Regions from separate parts of the Homo sapiens genome. Here regions 1 and 2 are each linked to region 3. Evidence: fine-mapped expression QTL. A gene starts in region 3. Each other region holds a variant in brackets. All regions are shown on one strand. Distances are from middle to middle.

Evidence for each region. PIP is the estimated chance that this variant, and not a neighbour inherited with it, causes the effect.
Region 1: its variant is fine-mapped to the expression of IQCN in whole blood (TOPMed, PIP above 0.99).
Region 2: its variant is fine-mapped to the expression of IQCN in whole blood (INTERVAL, PIP above 0.99).

What each region holds. Positions count from the first base shown.
Region 1 is chr19:18,223,779-18,231,778 of GRCh38, forward strand. It overlaps PDE4C (phosphodiesterase 4C), which reads right to left and starts at 2,660. Exons shown (of 15, transcript NM_001098818.4): 1 at 2,492-2,660. The coding sequence starts at 2,637. RefSeq lists silencers at 88-157, 2,544-2,603 and enhancers at 768-1,007, 7,773-8,000. The variant A/G (reference allele first, on the strand shown) is at 4,483.
Region 2 is chr19:18,243,350-18,253,763 of GRCh38, forward strand. It overlaps CIST1 (colon, intestine and stomach enriched 1), which reads right to left. Exons shown (of 4, transcript NM_001396036.2): 2 at 8,715-9,122; 3 at 6,963-7,123; 4 at 6,685-6,828. The coding sequence ends at 6,781. It also overlaps a transcript of PDE4C not described here. Among named protein-coding and RNA genes, the nearest start is that of CIST1, 6.8 kb to the right of the region's middle. RefSeq lists an enhancer at 4,992-5,895. The variant A/AT (reference allele first, on the strand shown) is at 6,228.
Region 3 is chr19:18,269,861-18,278,857 of GRCh38, forward strand. IQCN (IQ motif containing N) reads right to left here and starts at 4,592. Exons shown (of 4, transcript NM_001145304.2): 1 at 4,543-4,592. RefSeq lists enhancers at 5,019-5,313, 5,097-5,216.

The DNA.
Region 1 (8,000 bases), 47 kb before region 3:
ACACGTGGACTGGAAACAGCTTCTTGGGCTCTTCTACCTGGAGGAGGCCGGGGTTCTGCCTAGCTCCTGCGTGCGCCTTAGTCTAGAGAGACCCCACTCCTAGCCAACTTGCTCACACCCTTGGCTACCTGCCACGCCCCCAGCGTTCCAGGCTCCACCCTCAGCCCATAAGGCTCCGCCCCACGGCCGCCGACCACGCCCCCAGCTAGCCGGGTCCTGCCCTAGGCTCCCCCACTCCTCCACTTCATCTTCAGCCTGAACGTTCCGCCTGTTATCTTCCACCTCCGGGTCTTTGCACAGGCCGTGCTTTCTGCCCGGCCCACCCTCCTCCCTCTCCACACTACCTGTCCCGTTCTACCCTCAAACCCTGTCTTTCCCTCTGGCTCCTCCTCTTTGGGGTCAGAGGTCAGAGAAAGGGCGTAGGGCAAGAACTGGGGCGCTAGAGAAGGCGGTGACCTGGGGGTGGGTTTTCAAGAAGGGCAGGCGGAAGCGGCACCGACAGGAAGACAACCGGGACCGCCTGAGACTCGGAGCTCCCGGCCGAGGGCCAGTGTCCGGCTGGTCCCGGCCAAGACTTTTGGGTCAAAGGTCACCGTATCCCCGTCCACGAGCTGGGTCGGCACCCCGCGTAGGCTCAGATCTGGGTAGAGGTGGGGGATTTGGCAGCATTCGGTCCAAGTATGACCGGGTCTGAGTTGGGTCTGATCACGTCGAATTGGACTTGGTCACGAAGAGTTTGTTCGATGAGTTCGGGAGAATTCGGCTACGTCCGATTGAGCTCGGGAGACTTCGGATAAGTTCGAGCTTGTTCGCCTAAGTCCGGTTACGCTCGGTCTGCTTCGAACAAGTCCGGGTGACGCTCGGGCCGGGTCGGGCATGTTCGGTCACGTCCGGCTACATGAGGGCTAGTTCGGGCATCTCCGACTAAGACCGGCCGCGCTCGGCCTGTTCCGTCCGACTCCAGCGGGTTTAGCAGCACCGGGATGAACCCCACGGCCAGCCGAAGGGGCGGGGCTTCTTAACCCTTCCCTGGCCCGTCTGGGGTGCGCCGTGGGCGCTGTGGTGCAATGGGAGACGCTCTTAGGGGCGGACTGGAGGCGGCGGATAACCCAGATCTGCCCCTCGAGGGGGAGGCATGCGGATCGCGACCCCCTACCCCTCTCTCGGCTCTCCCCAAGGGTTCCAGAAAAGCGCGTCTGTGGACAAATAGGGAAACTGAGGCCAGGAGCGGCCACAGGGCGTGCAAATCCGGATCCCGGGCGCGGAGGGTTAAGGACTGGGCCCGGGTTTTCTTGGGGCGGGGGAGGCTGTTTTTCTTTCTGCTCTAAACTTAGCCGGGAGCGGCGGGGTCAGGCTGTGGTTCCATGACGCGGGCGGTGCGGGGGTAGAGCCCCCCGGCTGTGGGAACGGCGCGGCTGCCCATTGGCCAGGGGGGTAAACTGAGCCAGGGAGGCTCGGACTTGGGTTCGGGTCTGGCCTGCGCGGGGCCGGCCCTCGTTCATCCTCACTTCTGAGTACCCGCGACGCGCCCTCGACGTCCCTGCGCTGTCTCTAGCGCCTTCAAAAGGGAATGTGCTTCGCTAGTGTTTGGTGCCCCGAGGTCGCTCTCCAGGACACGGAACCCCCACTCTCCCACTCCCTGGTTGAAATGGAACCACCAGGAACCACGGTCATACCTTCTCCCTCCAACCCCAGCTATGACCTTGGAGAGGGACCTCCCCTCTCAGCCTTTGGGTGCCAGACTTACCAAGTGGGTGCCAATTCGGCGCGGACCAAGCGCAGGATGCCAGCCACAGTCGGCGCCCACAAGCCCCACTCCGAACCCCAGCCTTGCCCCCATCCCTCCCCACGAGGTCACAGTCGTTTCTGGAAAGGCAGGGATTCGAACCCAGAGGGGTGGACCGAGTGCTTAGAGGATGCAGCGCAAGCAGCTGCCGGGCGCAGGCGCGCGCTCAGCCTGGGACTCCCGAACGCCCTGCCTCGAAAACCCCCTCAATTCAGGTCTTCCTCCGTGGACACCCAGAGTTCATTGTGAGGCCCCCAGGGCATCTCTTTGCTGGCACTGGGACAGGATGCTGGTGGGAGGGGGCACCAAGGGAAGGAGTGCCCCTTCCCCCTCCTCCCACTGCCAGGACGCACAGCCTGCCTGCCCCAGGCCGGCGAGGGTCAGGAGGAGACGTGAGCCTCAGCCCGTCCCACTCTGGGCCTCACAGCTGGAAGGAGACAGACGGCTGGTCCCCTGGGCCTATATCCAGGCGGCGGGTGGAGACAGACGGAGACAGAGAGAGACAGAGTCACCAACTGCGAGACAAAAGTAGGGTAAGGTAGGGTAGAGGGAGAGAGATACAGAGAAAGCGAGGGAGAGGCAGAGCGTCCAAGCCCGGACTCCGGCCCCGGCCCCAGCTGTCCCTGGCCTTGTCCCTGTCCCTGCCCTTCCCACCTCCACACCGGGCGTCCCGGTGACCCCGCCAGGCCCTCTGTCCAGCCTCACCACAGCGGATGGGCCACCGTGAAGCGCCGCTGCAGGCGGATGCTCTGATTCACCAAAAGCTTCCTGAAGAGCCCGGGGGAGCCGCGCGGGGATCCCCGAGGGGAGCCGGGCCCGGGGACCGGGGCGGGCGCGGGGGGGCCCTGCATCGCCAGGACTGCGTGGAGGCTGGACCGAGCGCCGGCTGCGCGGGACCTTTTCTGGACAGCTGCGGGGGCGGGGCCCAGCGGGGAGGGGGCAAAGGGCGCATCGGCCCCGCCTCGAGGCCGGCGGCTCCCTGACGACCCCCGGGACAAACGGGGAAACTGAGGCACAGAGTCAGACGCAACTCTCTGCTCCTTTTTTTTTTTTTTTTTTTTGAGACGATCTCGCTGTGTTGCCCAGGCTGGAGTGCAGTGGCACAGTCCTAGCTCATTGCAGCCTCAACTTCCTGGGCTCAAGGGATCCTCCTACCTCAGCCTCCCAAGTAGCTGGGACTACAGATGCACACCACCACGCCCGGGCTAATGTATTTTCTGGAGAGATGGGGGTGTCTCTTTATGTTGCCCAGGCTGATCTCGAACTCCCAGACTCAAGTGATCCTCCTGCCTCAGCCTCGCAAAGTGCTGGGATTATAGGTGTGAGCCATTGCGCCAGGCCCAACTGTACTTCTTTAGAGGGCTGCCCCTAAGATCTCAGAGCCTGGATCTTACTCAGCCTTCCTCGGCACGTCCCTGGTTAGTGCAGCTTGCTGGGCCAATAACTGCTAAAAAGTGTAGAATGAGGGAGTCAGAAAGCAAGGTGCCCAGAGAAACAGCTGTCTTGCCTTCCATTATTGAGGGCATCACCGAGGTATAGAGTTTGCCAATGTCCGATCCCACGCAATGTTTCTAATCCTCCTCTGCCCATTTTCCAGATGGAGAAACTGAGGCCTAGTGCCATCAAACAGCGCACCAGAAACTACAAACCCTTAATCCTTTGCCAAGTGGGGAAACTGAGGCTTCCATGGACGCGGTCACGGGCATGGGTCTTTGTTGCAGAAAGCGAGACCCAAACTCAGGGCCCCCTCTCCCAGCACCCCTCCACGCAACTCCCCACGTGATCCCCCACCTGCTCTGACATTCCCCAGGCCCTGTCTCTGGATGCCTTCACCTCTCCTGCTGTCTCCTCCTAGACAAACATCCGCACATCACCTCTGCCAAGTCTTCTGTCCTGCGAAACCTCAGCCGCCCACCCCTGCCATCAGAGGGACCTCACTGTCCCAGGACTGGGGGGGGCCTCTGGTGTCTGGGAGGATTCCCAGAGTCTGTACCAGGTGCTCTACCCTCAGAATGCTGGAGTCAGGCTGGCCTTGTTCCACTTTACAGAAAAGGAAACCAAGGCTTAGCATGTGTCACACAAGGAGGAGGGACCTAGAAACAGCCATGTCACAGGCAGAGGCCCAGGGGACCTCCCAGCAACTGAGGCCTGACCGTGCCCCTTGCTGTGGAATGACCTCTGTCTCTCAGCCTGGGCCTTCCCCCCGGGGCGGCTGCCTCAGTCTTGGTGTCCCCAGACATGGTACCCATGTTTCTGGCAGTCCTGGAGAAGCCCATTGATCAGGGATCCCACAGGAGATCCTGAGGCAACCATGCTAAGGCCAGATACATGAGAGTCTCCCCATTCTACAGATGAGAAAACAGAGGCTCAGAGGAGGAGTCACACAGCCCAGAAAAACAGAGAGCCTCAGGTATCTGGCCAGGAAGCCCCCCTAACCCCCGCAGTCTTGCAACCAGACACCTGGCGGGAACCAGACCTCGCTGTCCCCAAGACAAAAATACCATCGTTGTCTGCTGGGGCCAGACCTAATTATAGCCATCCCTAGGGGACACATGCTGCTAGGATTGGCCTTGTGGGGACACTGGAGCCAAGGTCTCAGCAGTCTTGACACCACCTCCCCGCCACTGTGAGAGAAGTGACAATAGTTACATGTCCCCAAGGAGAAACCGAGGCACAGAGATTCAGCCCCTCCCCCA[A/G]AATCACAGACATAAAATAGGAGGCTAAGACTAAACAAAATTATGTAAACTGAGTGCTTCAAAAACATGCAGCACTCAGCCAACAGCAGTGAAGGGAAAAGTCATTGGATTTTCAGACGAAACCTACAAAGTGTGGACTACTATTCCCATTTCGAGGATGGGGCTACTGAGGCACAGAAAGGCACAGTCATTTGCCTAAGGACACACAGCCATAAGGTGCAAGACTGGGGTCATTTGAACCCGGACAGGTAGTGTTCTTCCCAGCCTGGGTCCTCCCGCACTGGATGCGTTAACTCATTTCATCCCCTCTGTAGTCCCAGGGGCGAGTCTCACATTAATATTTTATCAATAGGTTTACTATTAATGTTTCATCCATATATTTAATTTTAAATATTTTATTAACAGTTCTAACAGGAAGGTGTTAATTAATAGCTGTTCGGATGGAGAAAGAGTCACAGCAAGGGGTGGCCACAGAGCCAGGACTCAGCATTCACAGCCTGGCTCCTACCAGGCCCTGGGAGGCTCTCCAAGCCCCGCTGGGTAAGGGACAAAAGCTGAAAGAGGTTTGGACAGAAGCACCCCTACCCTGACTCCATCCCTGCATTACTGCATCTCCTGTAGAGGTGCCCAGTAGTCTCTGGTGCCTTTATTTATTTTATTTTATTTTATTTACATATTATTATTATTTTTTGAGAACAGAGTTTTGCTCCTGTTGCCCAGGCTGGAGTGCAATGGCACAATCTCGGCTCACTGAAACCTCCGCTTCCTGGGTTCAAGCAATTCTCCTGCCTCAGCCTCCCAAGTAGCTGGGATTACAGGCATGTGCCACCATGCCAAGCTAATTTTTTTTTTTTTTTTTTTTTGTATTTAGTAGAGACGAGGTTTCACTATATTGGTCAGGCTGGTCTCGAACTCCTGACTTCAGGTGATCACCTGCCTCAGCCTCCCAAAGTGCTGGGATTACAGGCGTGAGCCACTGTCCCTGGCCTTACTTTTTTGAGACACAGTTTCACTCTGTCGCCCAGGGTGGAGTGCAGTGGCGCAATCTTGGCTCACTGCAACCTCTGCCTCCTGGGTTCAAGTGATTCTCCTGCCTCAACCTCCCAAGTAGCTGGGATTACAGGCATCTGCCACCACGCCCAACTAATTTTGGTATTTTTAGTAGAGACGGGGTTTCACCATGTTGGCCAGGCTGGTCTTGAACTCCTGACCTCAGGTGATCCGTCTGCCTCAGTCTCCCAAAGTACTGGGATTACAGGTGTGAGCCACTGCGCCCATTCTGATGCCTTTAGCACAGCACTGCCTCAGTTTCCCTCATTTGAATGTTCCCTTCTCTGGGCAGGCACTTTTCTCCACTGCCACCAGGTGGCCCCAGAGAGATTTTTTTAAATGGGTGTTTTTGACCATTTTACAGATGAGTAAACTGAGACGTGGAGAGGGGAGATGACTTGCCCAAGTCCCCACGGAGGAGTCAAGCAGAATGAGCAGGGTGGGGGCCAGGTCACATGTGTAGATGTTCGCATGGGTCAAATCACACACTCCTTTGCTGCAGACCCTCCCATGGCCCCCCATTGCCCTCAGATCTGAATTCACACCTCCCAGAGGTCCCATGTGGCCCATCCCCACCTCACTTCTCTTGGCTTACACTGTTCCAGTCTCTCCCCACTCCTCACTGTTCTCTGAATCAGCCAGGCTTATTTCCACCCCATGGCCCTCACCTGAATGCTTGTCGCCTGCTGATGCTTTGTCTTTTGGGTTACAGTTAGAGTCACCTCCTCCGAGAAGCCCTCCCTGACTAGCCAGGTAAATGCCTCAGAGCACCCTCCAGCCATGGATACAACTTCACATTTATTGTCATGATTATTTGCCTGTGAGTCCCTGGAGAGCAAGGCCAGGTCTGCCATGTTCCCTGCTGTTCCCTCAGTACTTGGCACTTAGTAGATGCTCAATAAATGCTTGTAGCGGCTGGGTGTGGTGGCTCATGCCTGCAATCCCAGCACTCTGGGAGGCCACGGTATGTGGATCACTTGAGGTCAAGAGTTTGAGACCAGTCTGGCCAACATGGCAAAACTGTCTCTACTAAAAATACAAATATTAGCCAGGCATGGTGGTGGGCACCTGTAATCCCAGCTACTGGGGAGGCTGAGGTAGGGGAATCGCTTGAACCCAGGAGGCAGAGGTTGCAGTGAGACAAGATTGTGCCACTGCACCCGGCCTGGGCAACAGAGTGAGAGACTCCATCTAAAAAATAATAAATAAATAAATGCTTGTAGCATAAACAGAGAGCCTCTCCTTCCATCCTCAAGCCACACTGATCCATTTTCAGCTCCTCACATGCCTGATCCTCTTGAGTCTGAGGCTTTGCACATTCTGTTCCTTCTACTTAGAATACCCTTCTTGCACTCACCCTAGCTGACCTCTTTCCTCCTGCAGGCTAAGCTTAAATGTCACTTCTCCCAAGCAGTCCTCCCTGACTCCCACCCCACTGCTGGGTCTGGAGCCTCCTCTGGGCTTGTTCTCTGACCTTTCCCTATCAACCTGTGCCTTCTCCACCTGGTATGAGTGTCTCCACCATCAGCCTTAGGGGACACAGCTTCTTATCCATGGTTGCGTCTCCAACACAGGGCCTGCCACCCAGTAGGTGCTTAAATGCCTTCTCAACAAAATGCTTAGACCCTCCCATACCCCTGTGATCCATCTGGGGCTGTGGGGAAGCACATTCCCCCAACAGTTTCTAGGGCTGAGTAAAGAGCCACAAGCTGGGGACCCAGTGTGTACCAGGCTCAGGCACAGAATATTCACCTCTCTGATGAGGACGCCGAGGCTCCGGGAGGCACCACGGCTTGCTCAATACCACACAGCAGGTTGGCCTTGGGGCCTGGCCTTGAACTCAGTTTCGCTGGGCTTCCCCCTGGGGTGAACCCCTACCCTCATATCAGCACAGAGAAGCACAGTGGGCCACATGCATGCTCATCCACGTATGTGTGACTGCAGCGCATACGATGCGCAGAACGACGTGTGTGTGCACACACACGTGCACAGGGACACCCAATCCACCGCTCCTGCCTCCCAGAGCCAAGCGGGGGCTTCCCCTAGAAGAGCTCATACCAAGGCTCTGTTTGTTCTTTCTTGAAAATGGAAAATCATGAGTCACCAGAAGGGATGGGGAAGGAGGAACTAGAAGCCGGGGCGGGAGAAGGGGCTCCTGGGTCACCTGAGAACAGCTCCAACCCCTCTGGGCTGTGGGAACCATCTACCCCAGATGCCTCCCAGGCTGCTGGAGGGCCAGGCTGGGGGCGAGAGGCCAGGCTTGCTGATGGAGTCAGAAGCCAGTGGCCCCTAGGGGGTCCATGCACCAGGACGCAAGAAAGCCAAGCTCCAGAGCAGGGAAGTAACCCATCCAAGGCCACTCAGCCTGGACTGAAATCTGGGATGCTGGTCCAGCTGACTTGGTTCTCCCTCCAACCTAAGGAGGGCTTGGAGTTCCTGGACCCTCCTTCCTGGCCCTGGAGCCTCCA
Region 2 (10,414 bases), 26 kb before region 3:
CACCCACCTAGGCCTCCCAAATTGCTAAGATTACAGGCGTGAGCCACCACATCCGGTGGTGACTGGTGATTATTAAGCATGATTACTTGTTTTTCAGAAAGCCAGGAGTCACACAGTTACCTGGGGAATGGGGCTGCCATTACTTGCATGGGGAAAATTGGGGGAAGCACCAGGCTTTGGGTGGGTTCCAATTTCGCTGGAGCATCACATGAGTCCCAGATGGAGCCAGCAGAGGCAGCTGAATGTTTGGATCTGGAATTATGGGGGACCTGGCTCAACTGAAGGTGAAACAGACCTAACAGGTCTGGGGGCAGTTGCCAGCATCTGGCTGTTGGTCAGATGCGGGGGTGCTCCCAAGAGCCCTGATTCCTGGGACCCAGCCAGCTATCCCTCCCCCATCTGGAGTGGAATGGGGTAAGGATGGGGCTCCCAGGGACTAGGGATGGGGTATAGTGGGGTGTCCTCTGGTCTCAGCTGCAGCACACATCAACCTACCACTCCTGATTTTTTATCTTTTATTTTTGAGACAAAGTCTCACTCTGTTGCCCAGGCTGGAGTGCAGTGGTGCCATCTCGGCTCACTCCAACCTCCAACTCCCTGTTTCATGTGATTCTCCCACCTCAGCCTCCTGAGTAGCTGGGATTACAGGCGCCCACCACGATGCCAGGCTAATCTTTTTTTTTATTTTTTATTTTTTTATTTTTAGTAGAGACAGGGTTTCACCCTGTTGGCCAGGCTGGTCTCTAACTCCTGGCCTCAAGTAATCCACCCACCTCGGCCTAAAGTGCTAGGATTACAGGCATGAACTGCTGCACCTGGCCCTGCTACTCCTGATTAATTGCCCTCTTCATTAAGAAGCTGGGATGGGGATGGAGGGCCTGATGGGAGGCTCCTGGGTGGGGAAGGCCTTCGTAGGAGACCCTGAGCTACCTCCCCTTTTTGTTTTGTTTTGTTTTTTTTTTTGAGACGACGTCTCACTCTGTCACCCAGGCTGGAGTGCAGTGGCGCAGTCACAGCTCACTGCAGCCTCGGCCCCCTGGGATAAAGCAATCCTCCCACCTCAGCCTCCCAAAGTTCTGAGATTACAGGCGACCGCGACCACACCTAGCTGAGAGCTCCCTTTTGTTGTTGTTGGGTTTTGTTGTTGTTGTTGTTGTTGTTTGTTTTGGTTTGTTTTTTGAGACAGGGCCTTCCCTCTTGTCACCCAGGCTGGAGTGCAATGACGCGATCTTGGCTCACCGCAACCTCCGCCTCCTGGGTTCAAGCGATCCTTCTGCCTCAGCCTCCCGAGTAGCTGGGATTACAGTCATGCACCACCACACCCAGGTAATTTTGTATTGTTAGTAGAGACGGGGTTTCTCCATGTCGATCAGGCTGGTCTCAAACTCACAACCTCAGGTGATCCACCTGCCTTGGCCTCCCACACTGCTAGGATTACAGGCATGAGCCACAGTGACCAGCTTTTTTTTTTTCTTTTTCTTTCTTTCTTTTTTTATTTTCTGTTGAGATGGAGTCTCACTCCTTCACCCAGGCTGAAGTGCAGTGGCGCGATATTGTCTCACTGCAACCTCTGCCTCCCAGGTTCAGGTGATCTTCCTGCCTCAGCATGCCGAGTAGCTGGGACTGCAGGCGCGTGCCACCATGCACTGCTAATTTTTTGTATTTGTAGTAGAGACAGGGTTTCACCATGTTGGCCAGGATGGTCTCGATCTCTTGACCTCATGATCCGCCAGTTGTGGCCTCCCAAAGTGCTGGGATTACAAGCATGAGCCACTGTGCCTAGCCTGTTGTTGGTTTTTTGTTTGTTTGTTTGTTTGTTTGTTTGTTTGTTTGAGACAGAGTCGCACTCTGTTGCCCAGGCTGGAGTGCAGTGGCACAATCTCGGCTCACTGCAACCTCCACCTCCTGGGTTCAAGCAATTCTCCTGCCTCAGCCTCCCAGGTAGCTAGGATTACAGGTGCCTGTCACAACACCCAGCTTATTTTTTGTATTTTTAGTAGAGACAGGGTTTCTCCAGGTTGGCGAGGCTGGTCTCAAACTCCTGTCCTCAAGTGATCCACCTGCCTCAGCCTCCCAAAGTGCTGGGATTACATGTGTGAGCCACCGTGCCTGGCCTCTTTGCTGTTCCTTAAACCTGCCTCGGGGCCTTTGCATGTGCTGTGCCATCTGCCGGGGACACCCTTCCCCCGGCTGTTAAAATGGCCAGCTGCTTGTTTCCATCCATACTTCAGCTAAAATGTCAACTTCCCGGAGAAGGCCCTCCTGCCCAGCTCGAGCAGTCTCATGAGCACTCACCCAACCCCACATTTTCTCTTTTTTCTTGCCTTAACATCTGTCTCATGAGCCCTGTCATTTTGGGGCCTGTCACTGCAGTTCTGTGTCCTACACACTCAGCATGTGGCTTGGCACACAGCGGGTGCCCATGTGCAGGTGAAATGACTGATGCTGTGAGCTGAGTGTGGGAGAGGTCATCAGAAGGTCCTTTATTTATTTATTATTATCATTATTTTTTGAGACGGAGTCTCGCTCTGTTGTCCAGGCTGGAGTGCAGTGGCGCAATCTCAGCTCACTACAAACTTCACCTCCCAGGTTCAAACGATTCTACTGCCTCAGCCTCCCGAGTAGGTGGGATTACAGGCACCTGCCACCATGCCCAGCTAATTTTTTTTTTTTTTTTTTGAGACAGAGTCTTACTCTGTCATCCAGGCTGGAGTGCAGTGCAGTGGTGTGATCTTGGCTCACTGCAACCCCTGCCTTCCGGGTTCAAGCGATCCTCCTGCCTCAGCCTCCCAAGTAGCTGGGATTACAGGTGCCCGCCACCACACCAGGCTAATTTTTTTTTTTTTTTTTTTGAGATGGAGTCTCGCTCTGTCACCCAGCCTGGAGTGCAGTGGCATGATCACGGTTCACTGCAGCCTCGACCTCCCGTGCTCAAGCAGTCCTCCTACCTTAGCCTCCCAAGTAGCTGGGACTACAGGCGTACACCACCATGACTGGCTATTTTTTTTTTTTTAATAGAGATAGGGTCTTACTGTGTTACCCAGGATGGTCTTGAACTCCTCGGCTCAAGCGATCCACCTGCCTCGGCCTCCCAAAGCGCTGAGATTACAGGCGTGAGCCACCGCGCCCAGACTACCCTTTTCCTTTCCTCTTCCTGCAGATGGCTGGAGTGTGGATAAATAAACATTAAGGCATATGCAGCTACGCCTGCCCTAGGAGACCCGAGGCTCACCCTGAGCACCCTCATTCCACACAAAGTTAGCCCAGTTTTTTAACACACAAAAACGCTGAGTTCTGGCCAGGTATGGTGGTTCATGCCTGTAATCCCAGCACTTTGGGAGGCTGAGGCAGGTGGGTCACTTAAGATCAGGGGTTCAAGACCAGCCTGGCCAACATGGAGAAACCCGTCTCTACTAAAAATACAAAAATCAGCCGGGCGTCAAGGCTTGTGCCTGTAACTCCAGCTGCTCGGGAAGCTGAGGGAGGAGAATCACTTAAACCCGGGAAGCAGAGATGGCAGAGAGCAAAAATCACATCACTGCACTCCAGCCTGGGCGACAGAGTGAGACCCTGTCTAAAAAACAAAACAAAACAACAACAGAAACCACTGAGTCCTAGAGAGGTTACCAGCCACTCAGGTGATGGGCCTGGGATTTGAATCCAGCCCCCGCAGGGTTTTCCTCTTGGCTCAGTTTCCCAGAATGGGGGCACTGGCTGTGATCTGAAGTTGTGACCTCATGACCCACTGCTCAGGCCCGGGGGCAGCCAGGTCCCCTTTTCTTGGGTGAGTCAAAACCTTGTGTCCAGGCACAAGGGATCTCCTGCTCCCAAAAGCAGTGGCCACAGCCCTGGGCTGGACAGTTGGATCAGGTCCCCAATTCCCTGGTGGCCTCTCTGGGCCTCAGTGGGCCCCTGTGAGCTGGTCCCCGAGCAGCTCTAAGTGTTTCTTTTTTTTTTGGTGGTGGGGACAGAGTCTCACTCTGTCTCCCAGGCTGGAGTGCAGTGGCGTGATCTCAACTCACTGCAACCTCCGCCTCCCAGGTTCAAGCAATTCTCCTGCCTCAGCCTCCAAGTAGCTGGACTACAGGCATGAGCCACCATGCCCAGCTAAGTTTTTTGTGTGTCTAGTAGAGACGGGGTTTCTCCATGTTGGCCAGGTTGGTCTTGAACTCCTGACCTCAAGTGATCCGCCTGCTTCGCCCTCCCAAAGTGCTAGGATTGCAGGCGTGAGCCACCGCGCCTGGCCAGCTCTGGGTATTTCTCAGTAGAGGGTCTCTGGGATCTCCCCACCATGGCCTGGGCCACCCCCACCCCCTACTCACTTCACTCAGCAGGAAGGAGAGTGTTGTCCTGCTGTGCCTCATGCTGCTGGCATCTGTGGCCCTGCAGAAATGGTTCTGAGACCTCCAGACCACTGGGAGCCCAGGTACGGCCCTGTGGGACACCCCCTAGACAGAAGCTCACTCCCACACTCTCTGCACCCTCCCTTGAACCCCAAGGAACTAAATCAAGGTGGCATGGACCACACCACAGGCACCAGTGTGAGACACCCGCCCGGACCTTGCAGCGGTCCCCATCCAGGGACAGCAGCCAGGTGCCCAAAGCCCCTCCCCACACCTGTCCAGGTTCAGCAGCCTGGGTGGGGGCATCAGGACTGGCGAAACAAGGTCTCCTGGCCCCAGACACATGGGAGACCCATTCAGCTCCCAGAGTGGCTCTGATGGTTTCAGGGGGATTACGAGACCCCAGCACCTCTCCTGAGACGCCCCCAAGCTCAAGAATAAGCTTGCTCCAGGAGGCCCAGGCATGTCTGGCACTTACCACCACTGCGGAGTCCTGCCTGGGTCCCATGACCTGCTGGCTAGTGAGGGAAGGAGGGGAGAAAATGACCTGACCAAGAGGGAGGCCCAGGGCTCCCTCAACACCCACTCAGCGGAGCCCCTTAACTGTCTGGGCACCAGGCCAGGACATAATCCACACACTTTCCTTGGGTGAGGCTCCCAGTGGGTGGAGGGCAGAGTGTCCAAGAGGGCCTGAGGGGACGAGAGAGTGGCCAAGAGGGTGGCCGGGCATGGAGGGGGAGGGGCGGGGAGGGCAGAGGAAGGAGGGGGGAAGGAGGGAAGGGAGGCGTAGGAGTGAGGAGGCTGGGTGAGAGGTGTTAAGATTAATTGTTCATGTGTTTGCATATGATAGAGTGAGAGAGAGGGCGCGAAGGAAGATGGTGGTAGGGGACCAGCAGCTCTGGGAAGGGGGGGATTTTATCAACTCAGGGTCTAGGATATCTGCTTCCAAGCAGAGCCCATGGGGTGTGGCCTAAGGAGCTTGGGGGCTCCAGGAAAGTTGCCCGCTGTGCTGTGCCGCCCCGGGTAGATCAAAGACCCTCTCTGGTCATTGGCTGGGCGCGGTGGCTCACGCCTGTAATCCCAGCACTTTGGGAGGCGGAGGCGGGTGGATCACGAGATCAGGAGATCGAGACCATCCTGGCCAACATGGTGAAGCCCCATCTCTACTAAAAATACAAAAAAATTAGCTGAGTGTGGTGGCAGGTGCCTGTAATCCCAGCTACTTGGGAGGCTGAAGCAGGAGAATCGTTTGAACCCAGGAGGCAGAGGTTGCAGTGAGCTGAGATCGTGTCACTGCACTCCAGTGTGGGCAACAAGAGCGAAACTCCATCTTATTAAAAAAAAAAAAAAAAGAATGGCTTGAACCCAGGAGTCAGAGGCTGCAGTGAGCCAAGACTGCACTACTGCACTCCAGCCTAGGTGACAGAGGGAGACTGTCTCAAAAAAGAAAAAAAGAGAGAGAGATGGGGTTTTGCCATTTTGCCCAATTTGGTCTCAAACTACCAAGCTCAAGCAATTCACCCACCTCAGCTTCTCAAAGTGCTGAGATTACAGTGGTAAGCCACCATGCCCGGCACCCCCAGTTTTGTTTGTTTGTTTTGAGACAGGGTCTCACTCTGTCACCCAGACTAGAGTGCAGTGGTGCAATCTCAGCTTACCGCAACCTCTGACTCCCAGGCTCAACCAATTCTCCTGCCTCAGCCTCCCTAATAGCTGGGATTACAGGCACACACCACCACGCCTGGCTAATTTTTGTATTTTTAGTAAAGATGGGGTTTCACCATGTTGACCAGGCTGGTCTTGAACTCCTGACCTCAAATGATCCACCCACCTTTGCCTTCCAAAGTGCTGGGATTACAGGTGTAAGCCACTACGCCTGGCCCT[A/AT]TTTTTTTTTTTTTTGAGATGGAGTCTTGCTCTGTTGCCCAGGCTGGAGTACAATGGGGCGATCTCAGCTCACTGCAACCTCCGCCTCCCTGGTTCAAGCGATTCTCTGCCTCAGCCTCCTGAGTAGCTGGGATTACAGGCACCTGCCACCACGCTCAGCTAATTTTTGTATTTTTAGTACAGACAGAGTTTCGCCATGTTAGCCAGGCTGGTCTCAAACTCCTAAGCTCAGGAGATCTGCCCGCCTTGGCCTCCCAAAGTGCTGGGATTACAGGTGTGAACCACCGCACCCAGCCAAGTGAGCTCCTGATTCTTATCTGTCCCTGCCTTGAGTCTGTGGATCCCCTGAAAGTAAAGACATGGTCCCCACTGTGACCCCAGCACAGAGCCCAGCACATAGTAGGTGCTCAGTTAATGTTTTCACACGAGTCCATAACTCGTGTTTTCACACGAGGCCTTGGATGAATGGTAGGGGCTTTATTTCCTCAGGTTCTGCTCCTCCCCAGGAACCCCAGCCCCATCCATGCCCCCATCTCTGTTGGCTCCTCAGGGCTCACTCCTGGAGGTGGTGGGCAAAGGACAATCTGTCATTCACGGATCCCTGAGGAAGGAACACACAGGGAGGCATTCAGACACCAAAAGGCTCTGCAGCCCAGGTTGGCCCTGCTTGGGATAGCAGCTCCCCCAACCATGCCTTGGCCCCAGGGCTGAGCCCCCAGCCCAGCCCTACCTTACCATGGACACCTCGTCCAGGTTCTCAAACTTGGACTCATTCCGGTGACAGAATCTCACAGCCATGACCACAGACCCGATGAGCAAAAGAGACACCAGCAAACACACGACCACCACCACACTCGGGTTCCTGTGTAACTCACGGGGCCCAGTGTCACCTGGAGCTGGGGAAAGGAACTCAGAGTCAGCACTGGGTCCTATTCCCCACAAGCCTAAGACACCCACCAGGGCCCAGAGCCTTTTAAAATCTGTTCTCAGGAAGCTGACCTCTCTTCCCTCTCCAGTTGAGGCTGCCACTTTTTAATCATGTATTTTAGAGACAGGGTCTCACTCTGTCACCCAGGCTGGAGTGCAGTAGTGCAATCACAGCTCACTGCAGCCTCTATCTCCTGGGCTCAAGTGATCCTCCCACCTCAGCCTCCCAAGTAGCTAGGATTACAGGCATGCACCACCATGCCTGGACAATTTTTTTTTTTTTTTTTTGAGACAGGGTCTTGCTCTGTCACACAGGCTGGAGTGCAGTGACGTTATCTCAGCTTACTGTGACCTCCATCTCCAAGGATCTAGTGATCCTCTTACCTCAGCCTCCCCAGTAGCTGAGACTACAAGTGTGTGCCACCACACCCAGCTAATTTGTGTACATATTTAGTAGAGATGGGGTTTCACCATGTTGCCCAGGCTGGTCTTGAACTCATTGGCTCAGGTGATCCACCCGCCTCGGCCTCCCAAAGTGCTGGGATTACAGGCGTGGGCCACTGAGCCCAGCCTAATTTTTAAATTTTATTTAATCAATTACTTTATTTATTTTTGAGATAGAGTCTTTTTTTTCCCCCCCGAGATGGAGTCTTGCTCTGTCTCCCAGGCTGGAGTGCAGTGGTTCAATGTGGGCTCACTCCAACCTCCGCCTCCTGGGTTCAAATTATTTTCCTGCCTCAGCCTCCCAAGTAGCCCGGATTACAGGCGCCCGCCACCATGCCTGGCTATTTTTTGTATTTTTAGTAGAGACGGGGTTTCACCATGTTGGCCAGGCTGGTCTTGAACTCCTGACCTCAGGTGATCCTCCCACCTTGGCCTCCCAAAGTGCTGGGATTACAGATGTGAACCACCACGCCCAGCCATTTTTATTTTATTTATTTATTTATTTGAGACAGAGTCTTACTCTGCCACCCAGGCTGGAGTGCAGTGGCACGATCTCAGCTCACTGCAACCTCTGCCGCCTGGGTTCAAGCGATTCTCCTGCCTCAGCCTCCCGAGTTGCTGAGATTACAGGCGTCTGCCACCACGCCTGGCTAATTTTTGTAGTTTTAATAGAGACGGGGTTTCACCATTTTGGCCAGGCTGGTCTTGAACTCTTGACCTCGTGATACACGCCCCCCCCGCCCCCGCCCCCGCCCTCGGCCTCCCAAAGTGCTGGGATTACAGGCTTGAGCCACCGCGCCCCGCCATTTTTAGATTTTTTTGTAGAGACAAAGTCCTGCTATTTTGCCCAGGCCCAAATACATAATGTATAACCTGTCTCCCCACCACAGCAAGTATTAGTTTCTCTCTTTGCCCATCGCTGCGTGCCCAGCCGTGACATACACTAGGCACTTAATAAATGCGCATAGCATGAAGAGCTTTAGACAATGGAGCAGAGACAAGAAGCCCTTCCTAGAGCATTCTCGGGGCTGTACCTCCCCCTGGTGGTCAGTTCCAAAACTGCAGCCTGTTACACCCGCCACCTCCCTACAAACACCCAAATCTCTTAATACTCACCTGGGCCAGGGGGCTCCAAGGTCTGGTCAGTGGAGGTCAAGGGCTCCGTTCCGGGGCTGTGGGAAGTGGGGCTCCAGTGCGGGGTCAGGGATTCGGAACTGGGGAGGGTGGAATGGGAAGAGGGGGTGAGCTCTGCACTGGGGGAGCCAGAACTAGGGTGCGTGATTGTCTCTGGTTGTGGGGAGGAGGGTATCATCCTTGAATCTGTGGAGCTGGGGCTCGGCTGGATGGTAGGGGTTGCCCCTGAACTTGAGGGGCTGAGGTGGGTTATGGAGTCTGTCTCCAAACTCATGGTGCTGGAGTAGGATTTGGGGGGTTCCCCTGAACTGTGGGTGCTGTGGGCGAAGGGAGAAGAAATCAGAGAGCTGACAGGTGATGTCTCCATACTGTTCTCTGAGGTCACAATATCTGGAAAGAAAAACTGGGCGCGGTGGCTCACGCCTGTAATTCCAGCACTTTGAGAGGTCAAGGTGAGAGCATCACTTGAACCCAGGAATTAGAGACCAGCCTGGGCAACATAGCGAGACCCTCTCTCTCTCTCTTTCTCTCTCTCTTTTTTTTTTTCTTTTTTTGAGATGGCGTCTCGCTCTGTCACCCAGGCTGGAGAGCAGTGGTGCCATCTCAGCTCACTGCAACCTCCACCTCCTGGGTACAAGCAATTCTCCTGCCTCAGCCTCCCAAGTAGCTGGGATTACAGGCGTGCATTACCACGCCTGGCTAATTTTTGCATTTTTAGTTTCACTGTGCTGGCCAGATTTGTCTCGAACTTCTGACCTCAGATGATCCACCTGCCTTGGCCTCCCAAAGTGCTGGGATTACAGGCATAAGCCATCATGCCCAGCCTTTTCATTTTTATTTTTAATTAATTTATTTTTTTGTCCAGGTCATAGGGAGACCTGAAAGATTTAGGACACCATGTGAGCTCTCAGTGGGAAACTGAAGCTCCCACTCAAATTCATGCTCCTGGTCTGAAGTCCCACAGCCTGGGTTCAAGTGCAGATCAGCGTTCCCAGTCCTCTTGGCTGAGAGCTCTAGAAGCCCTTTGGATATGGGAAGTGACTGCATCCCAGGCAGTGCTGGGCAGCTCCTTTAAATTTTCTGGGACTCAGTTTTCTTTTCTGTAAAATGGAGTTCATGTGGAGTTGGTGCCTCTGACAGTTCATCAGTCAGGTTCATAGTGGGTGTACACAAGCTGGGTGCTCCCAGCTACTGGGGAGGCTGAGGCGGGAGGATTGCCTGACCCCAGGAATTCAAGGCTGTAGTGCGCCATGATTGCGCCACTGCACTCCTGCCTGGGAGACATAATGAGACCTTGTCTCTACAAAAAAATAAAACAAAAATTAGCCAGGCATGGTGGTGCATGCCTAGTCCCAGCTACTCAGGAGGCTGAGGTGGGAGGATCGCTTGAGTCCAGGAGTTCAAGGCTGCAGTAAGCCATGATCATGCCACTGAACTCCAGCCTAGGCAACAGAGTGAGACTCCGTCTCAAAAAAAAAAAAAACACACACACACAATAGAATAGAAACACAGTGGGTGCACAGTGACACTCAACTATAAAGATCCACCTATGAGCTCAGAGAGGATCAGCCCTAATTTTCTCCAGGTAGCCCTAGGCTAACCTCAACTTTAATGGAAGACACAAAGACACAGGCGCTGGGAACATGTCTCCGGAACCCACCCTTCTACGTGTTGGTCCAGCT
Region 3 (8,997 bases):
CAAAATTATCAATGGAGACAGGCTTAAATTAATCATACAAGGGCATGATATCCAGGCATCAGAAATGGCGTCCAGGCTGAGCACAGTGGTTCTTGCCTGCAATCCCAGCACTTTGGGAGGCCAAGATGGGAGGATCACTTGAGGACAGAAGTTTGAGACCAGCCTGGGAAACTAAGCAAGAACTGTCTCTTAAAAAAAAAAAAAAAAAAAAAAAAAAATTGGCCAGGCGTGGCTCACGCCTGTAATTCCAGCACTCTGGGAGGCCGAGGAGGGTGGATCACCTGAGGTCAGGAGTTCGAGACCAGCCTGGCCAACATGGTAAAACCCCGTCTCTACTAAAAATACAAGAAATTAGCCAGGCATAGTGGTTGACGCCTGTAATTCCAGCTACTCAGGAGGCTGAGGCAGGAGAATATCTTGAACCTGGGAGGCAGAGATTTCAGTGAGCTGAGATCGTGCCATTGTACTCCATCTGGGGCAACAAGAGCAAAACTGTCTCAAAAAAAAAAAAAAAATAGGCCGGGCACAGTGGCTCACGTCTGTAACCCCAGCAATTTGGAAGGCCAAGGTGGGTGGGTCACTTGAGGCCAGGAGTTCCAGACCAGCCTGGGCAACATGGTAAAACCCGTCTCTACTAAAAACATAAAAATTAGCCAGTCATGGTGACATGCACCTGTAGTCCCAGCTACTCGGGAGGCTGAGACAGGAGGATCATTTGAGGCCAGGAGGTTGAGACTGCAGTAAGCTACGATGGCACCACTGCACTCGAGCCTGAGCGACAGAATGAGACCCTATCTCTTTTTTGTTTTTAAAACAGAGTCCCACCCTTTTGCCCAGGCTGGAGTGCAGCGTCACAATCTCGGCTCACTGCAACCTCTGCTTCCCAGGTTCAAGTGATTCTTGTGCCTCAGTCTCCCAAGTAGCTGGGATGACAAGTGTAAGCCACGGTGCCTGGCTGAGACCCTGTCTCAAAAAAAAAAAAAAAAAGATTGTGATTAAAGAGTAAGTATAAGATAAAAGGTAACCTGGGAGGCCAGGCATGGTGGCTCACACCTGTCATCCCAGCACTTCGGGAGGCCAAGGCAGGTGGATCACAAGGTCAGGAGTTCGAGAACAGCCTGGCCAACATGGTGAAACCCCGTCTCTACTAAAAATACAAAACTTAGCCAGGCACAGTGGCATGCACCTGTAATCCCAGCTACTTCAGAGGCTGAAGCAGGAGAATCACTTGAACCCGAGAGATGGAGATTGCAGTGAGCCGAGATCACGCAACTGCACTCCAGCCTGGGCGACAGAGTGAGACTCTGTCTCAAAAAAAAAAAAAAAAAACCAGGCGCAGTGGCTCACGCCTGTAATCCCAGTGCTTTGGGAGGCCGAGGTGGGTGGCTCACGTGAGGTCAGGAGTTCAAGACCAGCCTGGCCAACATGGTGAAACTCTGTCTCTACTAAAAATACAAAAATTAGCCAGGTATGATGGCAGGTGCCTGTAATCCCAGCTACTTAGGAGGCTGAGGCGGGAGAATCTCTTGAACCCAGTAGGCAAAGGTTGCAGTGAGCTGAGATCATACCATTGCACACCAGCCTGGGTGACTGAGCGAAACTCAGTTCAAAAAAAAAAAAAAAAGATAAAAGGAAACTCTATGTGGTACTTTAGGGCTGAGGGAGTATCCCCAAAAAAGGGGCAAATTTGGAGAGCATTCAGACTTCCTTGGAGAAAGTATGGTCCCGCCTAACAAGTTAACGGAGATAATTGCTGGATCGGCCAAGCCAGAGCTGGTCTGGAGTTGCAAAACAAGCAAAAGGCCCACCCTCCAGGGTGCAGATGTGGGAACAGGTTATCAACAGTTGGTGCTCTGGATGTGCACTGGAAACCTAAGTGTTGCTGGGGCAGGAGGCCTTCAATGTGTATGGGCCACCGTGGGGGCTCTGTTCGTTTATTATCATTTATTTATTTATGATTTTTGAGACAGAGTCTCACTCTGTCCCCCAGGCTGGAGTGCAGCGGCACTCAGCATCTTGGCTCACTGCAACCTCCGCCTCCTGGGTTCAAGCGATTCTCCTGCCTCAGCCTCCCGAGTAGCTGGGATTACAGGCATGAATCCCACCACACCCAGCTAATTTTGTTTGTTTTGTTTTGTTTTGTTTTTGGAGGGACGGGGTTTCACCATGTTGGCCAGGCTGGTCTCAAACTCCTGATCTCAGGTGATTCGCCTGCCTCGGCCTCCCAAAGTGCTGGGATTACAGGCGTGAGCCACCGCGCCTGGCCTTTTTTTTTTTCTCTCTCTCTTTTGAGTTTTGTTCTTGTCGCCCAGGCTGGAGTGCAGTGGCGCGATCTCCTTTCACTGCAACCTCTACCTCTCGGTTTCCAGCGATTCTCCTACCTCAGCCTCCTGAGCAGCTGGGATTACAGGCACCTGCCACCACGCCTAGCAAATTTTTGTATTTTTAGTACAGATGGGGTTTCATCATATTGGTCAGGCTGGTCTCAAATTCCTGACCACAGGTGATCCACCCACCTTGGCCTCCCAAAGTGCTGGGATTACAGGCATGAGCCACCGCGCCCGGCCTTAGGGGCTCTGTTTTTTGTGTGTGTTGAGAGGGCTGCAGAAAGGTTTTCACCAGGTCAAGACTGCAAAGTCACAGGACCACGTTCTGGATCCAGGGCTCGGGCAGGCTTCACCTGGTGTCTTCACACCTCTATCCCTAATGCCTCACCAGCGCCCTCTATTGAGAAATCTTAGCATTGTGCTCACTTTTTTTTTTTTTTTGAGACGGAGTCTCGTTCTGTCTCCCAGGCTGGAGTGCACTGGCACCATCTCGGCTCACTGCAAGCTCTGCCTCCCGGGTTCACGCCATTCTCCTGCCTCAGCCTCCTGAGTAGCTGGGACTACAGGCGCCTGCCACCACGCCCAGTTAATATTTTGTATTTTTAGTAGAGACGGGGTTTCACTATGCTAGCCAGGATGGTCTCCATCTCCTGACCTCGTGATTCGCCCACCTCGGCCTCCCAAAGTGCTGGGATTACAGGCGTGAGCCACCGCGCCTGGCCGAGCATTGTGCTCACTTTAAACAAGACATAACGAAAGAAATTCCTTTGTTTATCACATATTGAAAGGGTCCATTCGGAGACAAGAGGCAATGCATGGATAATTGACACACATATATTTATTATTTTTATTTTTTTGAGATGGACGGAATCTTGCTCTGTTGCCCAGGCTGAAGTGCAGTGGCACGATCTTGGCTCACTGCAACCTCCGCCTCCCAGGTTCAAAGTGATTCTCCTGTCTCAGCCTCCCGAGTAGCTGGGATTACAGGCACTTGCCACCACACTTGGCTAACTTTTGTATTTTTAGTAGAGTTGGGGTTTCGCCATGTTGGCCAGACTGGTCTCGAACCCCTGACCTCAAGTGATCCGCCCGCCTCGGCCTCCCAAAGTGCTGGGATTACAGGCATGAGTCACCATGCCCGGCCTAATTATTATTATTATTCTCTTTGAGACGGAATTTCACTTTTGTTGCCCAGGCTGGAGTGCAATGGCGCCATCTTGGCTCACTGCAACCTCTGCCTCCAGGTTCAAGCGATTCTCCTGCCTCAGCCTCCCAAATAGCTAGGATTACAGGCATGCGCCACCACACCTAATTTCGTATTTTTAGTGGAAATGGGGTTTCTCCATGTTGGTCAGGCTGGTCTTGAACTCCTGATCACAGGTGATCTGCCCGCCTTGGCTTCCCAAAGTGCTGGCGTTACAGGCGTGAGCCACCTTGCCCGGCCTAATTTTTGAATTTTTAGTAGAGATGGGGTTTGACCATATGGGTCAGGCTGGTCTCGAACTCCTGAGGCAGGAAAATCACTTGAACCCGGGAGACAGCAGCTCTGGGAGCTGAATGGGCCCATTCCAGGGGCTGAGGTTTCATCAACCAAACGGTGCAGCTCTTTAGAGGAACTCAACCAGAAGGGGTGAGAAACGGGATTGTGGGGGATGAGAAGAAGGAACAGGGGCCCCCTGGACACAGAAGCCAAGCGACTGGCTCGGTAATTTTGAGTAAACCCCTCTGAGCCTCAATTTCCCTATCTGTCACAAGACATAAGATCACCATCCTCAGGTTGCCAAAGAGACACAACAGGCTCAGCTGGGCGCAGTGGCTCCTGCCCGTAATCCAAGCACTTTGGGGGACCAAGGTGGGAGGATCGCTGCAGCCCAAGAGTTTGAAAACAGCCTGGGCAACATGTCTCTATTTATTTAAAAAAATAATAATAAAGAGACATAACAGGCTCTCCATGATGTCCCCCATCACAGGTGAACAAATCCACCATCAAGGCTTTAGAGGTCCCTAGAGCCCCTGCTGTGAGGGGCCAAGGAGCTGACCCATCATTTGCAGTCACCCAGAAGGCCCAGAAGGGCTCTAAAGGCACTGGGGGCCAGAGGAGAACGACAGGGTCCCCCACGAACCCTCGCAAACAAGTCCTCCACCAGCCCCACTCACCCGCCCCTGAAGCCACCAGCCCCACTCACCCGCCCCCAAAGCCACCAGCCCCACTCACCTGCCCCTGAAGCTAAACCTAGCAGTCTGAACGGCCAGTCTTGGAGCCCTGGTGCCGCAGCAGCTTTGTGACTCAAAGCCAAGTTCTGGCCAATCCCTGGCAGCTCTTAGGGGGTGGGGATTCTAGAAGGCACAGCCAGAGGTTGGGGAACAGGATGCAGGGCAGGGCCAAAGGTCATGGTGGTTGCTACCTACACCGGCTCATCCTGAGTACAAAGGGTTCTCAGCACAGAGGGAACCCCAAATCTCCCCCTCCATGTACCTAGAGGCAGTTTCAGTCTTTCATCCCACGGGCATTTTCTGAGCACCTACTATATGCTGGAATTTGCCCCATGTCTGGGGATACAAACAACTCAAAGAATTTGAGGCTGTAAAATGGCTAGATGGGAAGGGACCAAAAAGGGGGTGCAACGGGCCAGTCAGGGTTCTCACTGATGTCTTGGGTGTGGCTCTGAGACTGCGGGCTCCTTGGGGTGGGGCCGGACTTGATCTCTTGGGATCCCCACTGGGCCCGGCAAAAGTGGGTACTGACCCTGAGCCGCAGCGCTATAAGGGGAAGTCAGGCTGCTGTCCTGGATCACCTCCTGGGGCTGGGCTGGGGCCCAGCATGAGTCACCGCTGGCTGGGCCAAGGCTGACACGCACCTTGGACTCAGTGCAGCTGGCTCCAGCCAAAGCCAGCCTGGCCCAGAAGCCTCTGCCTGGCTTCCTTGGGGAGCCGCTGGGGGTTGCCGGGACAAGAACCAGCAGGGGTGCCTGACCTCCCTCTGCAGCGATCACCCCCTCCAAAACCTTCCCTATACTGTGGGTGTGACTTTGGACAAAATCAGGGACATGGCAGATGGCAGTTGGGTGGGGTTTATATCCTTTGTCTGTTTTTTGAGATTGAGTCTCGCTCTGTTGCCCAGGCTGGAGTGCAGTGCTACGATCTCAGCTCACTGCAACCTCCACCTCCCCGGGTTCAAGCGATTCTCGTGCCTCAGCCTCCTGAGTAGCTGGGACTACAGGTGCATGCTATGACGCCCAGCTGATTTATGTAGTTTTAGTAGAGATAGGATTTCACCATGTTGGCCAGGCTGGTCTCAAACTCCTGACCACAAGTGATCCGCCTGCTGCGGCCTCCCAAAGTGCTGGGATTACAGGCATGAGCCACTGCACCCAGCTCATCCTTTGGATGTTTCATCAGAACAGGTCCCTTCTGTGCTGTCAACGAGCTAAACACAAACTGGGAGTTCTCAGGGCAATTGGAGACCGTAGGAGCCCAGTAAGGTGCTGGCCTAGCCTGAGGGTTACTAGGGACAGGCTTCCGAGGACTGTGCAGCTGAGGCTGGGAGGTGGCGCTCAGCTGCATGACTGGGGGAAGAGTAGCTGGCACAGAACTACAGCTGCAGCCGTGCAAAGACCCTGAGGCCAGGAAGGCAGGATATTGGGAATTTGGGTGGAGAGGCTCCTGAAAGGAGACACTGGCCAGCCCAGGGACTGGTGCAGTCAGGACTTTTTCCAAAAAGGTTTCAAGTAAGGAGTCAGATCTGTGATTTAGAAAAAGCCCTTCACATCACAGCTCATGCCTGCTTGACTCCCCCATCAGACTGGAGGGCTGGCCTCAACTAGGTGTCAATAAATGCTGGGGACGCTGGGCGCGATGGTTCATGCCTATAATCCCAGCACTTTGGGAGGCCAAGGCGGGCAGATCGATTGAGCCCAGGAGTTTGAGACCAGCCTGACCAATATGGCAAAACCTCGTCTCTACTAATAATACAAAAATTAGTCAGGCATGATGGCAAATGCCTGTAATCCCAGCTACTTTGGTGGCTGAGGCAGGAGAGTCACTTGAACCCAGGAGGTGGAGGCTACAGTGAGCCAAGATTGCACCACTGCACTCCAGCCTGAATGAGAGACCCTGACTCAAAAAAAAAAAAAAAAAAAAAAAAAAAAAAGAGGCCGAGTACAGTGGCTCAATACCTGTAGTCCCAGCATTTTGGGAGACCGAGGTTGGAGGATCACTTGAACACAGGAGTTCAAAACCAGCCTGGGCAACATAGATCCCATCTCTACAAAAAAATTATTTAAAAATTAGTAGGGCGGCTGGGCGTGGTGGCTCACGCCTGTAATCCCAGCACTTTGGGAGGCCAAGGCTGGCGGATCATGAGGTCAGGTGATCGAGATCAACCTGGCTAACACGGTGAAAGCCCATCTCTATTAAAAACACAAAAAAATTAGCCAGGCATGGTGGCAGGCGCCTGTAGTCCCAGCTACTCAGGAGGCTGAGGCAGGAGAATGGCGTGAACCTGGGAGGCGGAGCTTGCAATGAGCCGAGATGGCGCCACTGCACTCCAGCCTGGGCGGCAGAGCAAGACTCCGTCTCAAAGAAAAAATAAAAATAAAAATTAGTAGGGCATGGTGGCGTGCACCTGTGGTCCCAGCTACTTGGGAGGCTGAGGTGAGGCAGGACAATCAGTTGAGCCTAGGAGGTCAAGGCTGCAGTGAGCTGTGGTCTTGCCACTGCACTCTGGCCAAGGCAAGAGCGAGACCTCATCTTGTAAAGAAAAAAAAAAACAAACTTGTGGGGCCCAGTGGCTCACGCCTGTAATCCCAGCACTTTGGGAAGCCAAGGTGGGTGGATCACCTGAGGTCAGGAGTTCGAGACCAGCCTGGGCAACATGGTGAAACCCTGTCTCTACTAAAAATACAAAAAAAAATTTAGCCAGGCAGGGTGGCTCACGCCTGTAATCCCAGAAACTTTGGGAAGCTGAGGCGGGCAGATCACGAGGTCAGGAGATCGAGACCATCCTGGCTAACACGGTGAAACCCCGTCTCTACTAAAAACACAAAAAAATTAGCCGGGCATAGTGGCGGGCGCCTGCAGTCCCAGCTACTCAGGAGGCTGAGGCAGGAGAATGGCATGAACCAGGGAGGCAGAGCTTGCAGTGAGCTGAGATCGCGCCACCGCACTCCAGCCTGGGAGACAGAACGAGACTCCGTCTCAAAAAAAAAAATTTAGCTGGGCATGGTGGCAGACACCTGTAATCCCAGCTAATCAAGAGGCTGAGGCAAGAGAATCGATTGAAACTGGGAGGTGGAGGTTGCGGTAAGCCAAGATCAGGCCATTGCACTCCAGCCTGGGCGACAAGAGGAAGACTCAGTCTCAAAAAAAAAAAAGAAAAACAAAGTACGTCCTCCACCTCTCTGCAGGGCTCCTCAGAGTCCTTTCGCCTTAGACCACTTGGGGGCAGGCAAGCAAGAGACCTGGGTTTGAATCGCTGCTCTGCCATTTAACAGGGGTGTTGGCCGGGCACGGTGGCTCACGCCTGTAATCCCAGCACTTCGGGAGGCCGAGGCGGGCGGATCATGAGGTCAGGGGATCAAGACCATCCTGGCTAACACGGTGAAACCCCATCTCTACTAAAAGTACAAAAAATTAGCCAGGCGTGGTGGCGGGCGCCTGTATTCCCAGCTACTCAGGAGGCTGAGGCAGGAGAATGGCATGAACCCAGGAGGCGAAGCTTGCAGTGAGCCGAGACTGCGCCACTGCACTCCAGCCTGGGAGACAGAGCGAGACTCTGTCTCAAAAAAAAAAAAAAAAAAAAACAGGGGTGTTGGGCAAGTCTCAAAACCTCCCTTCCCCTTCTCTACTAATTGGGGGCCACAGTAGGTACCATCATTGAGTGCGGTCACTGTTGTCCGTCCCCTGAGCACCTCCCAGTTCTGACTTCTGACCTGAGAGATGTTATGCTGGATGCAAACACCCGCATCTCACAGCACAGGATGTAGAGGCCATCGGGGGAGGAGGACTCGCCTGAGATCTCACAAATGCCAACTGGAACCTAAGCTGGGTCCCGGTCTCCCAACCAGTGACACTCTGCCCGAGATGTGGTTCTTGGTCTCTTGTGTGTCAAGACACCCCTGCTCTCCCACCTCAGCCTCAGTTCCCTTCAGCAGGTTCCTTCAGGCCCTGCTGAAACGTCTGCATGACCTCCCACAAGGCAACGTGACAGCTAAAAACCAAACCCTGGCCGGACGTGGGGGCTCACGCCTGTAATCCCAGCACTTTGGGAGGCCGAGGCGGGTGGACCACTTGAGGTCAGGAGTTCCAGACCAGCTTGACCAACATGGTGAAACCCTGTCTCTACTACAAATACAAAAAAGTAGCCGAGCATGGTGGGCACCTGTAATCTGAGCTACTTGGAGGCTGAGGCAGGAGAATCACTTGAGCCCGGGGAGGCAGAGGTTGCAGTGAGCCTAGATGGCGCCACTGCACTCCAGTCTGGGTGACAGAGCGAGACTCTGTCTCAAACAAATGAACCCCAACATAGCTGTTGGTGGCAAGGCCTTTCTCCATGACCAAGGGACGGTGGCCATTCTCTCCAAGTTTCTTCATCTGTAAAATGGGTACAATTCAGTGGCCCTCCCTAACAGGGCTGGCTAGGTACACATGGCCACCAGCCCTACTTGCTGTG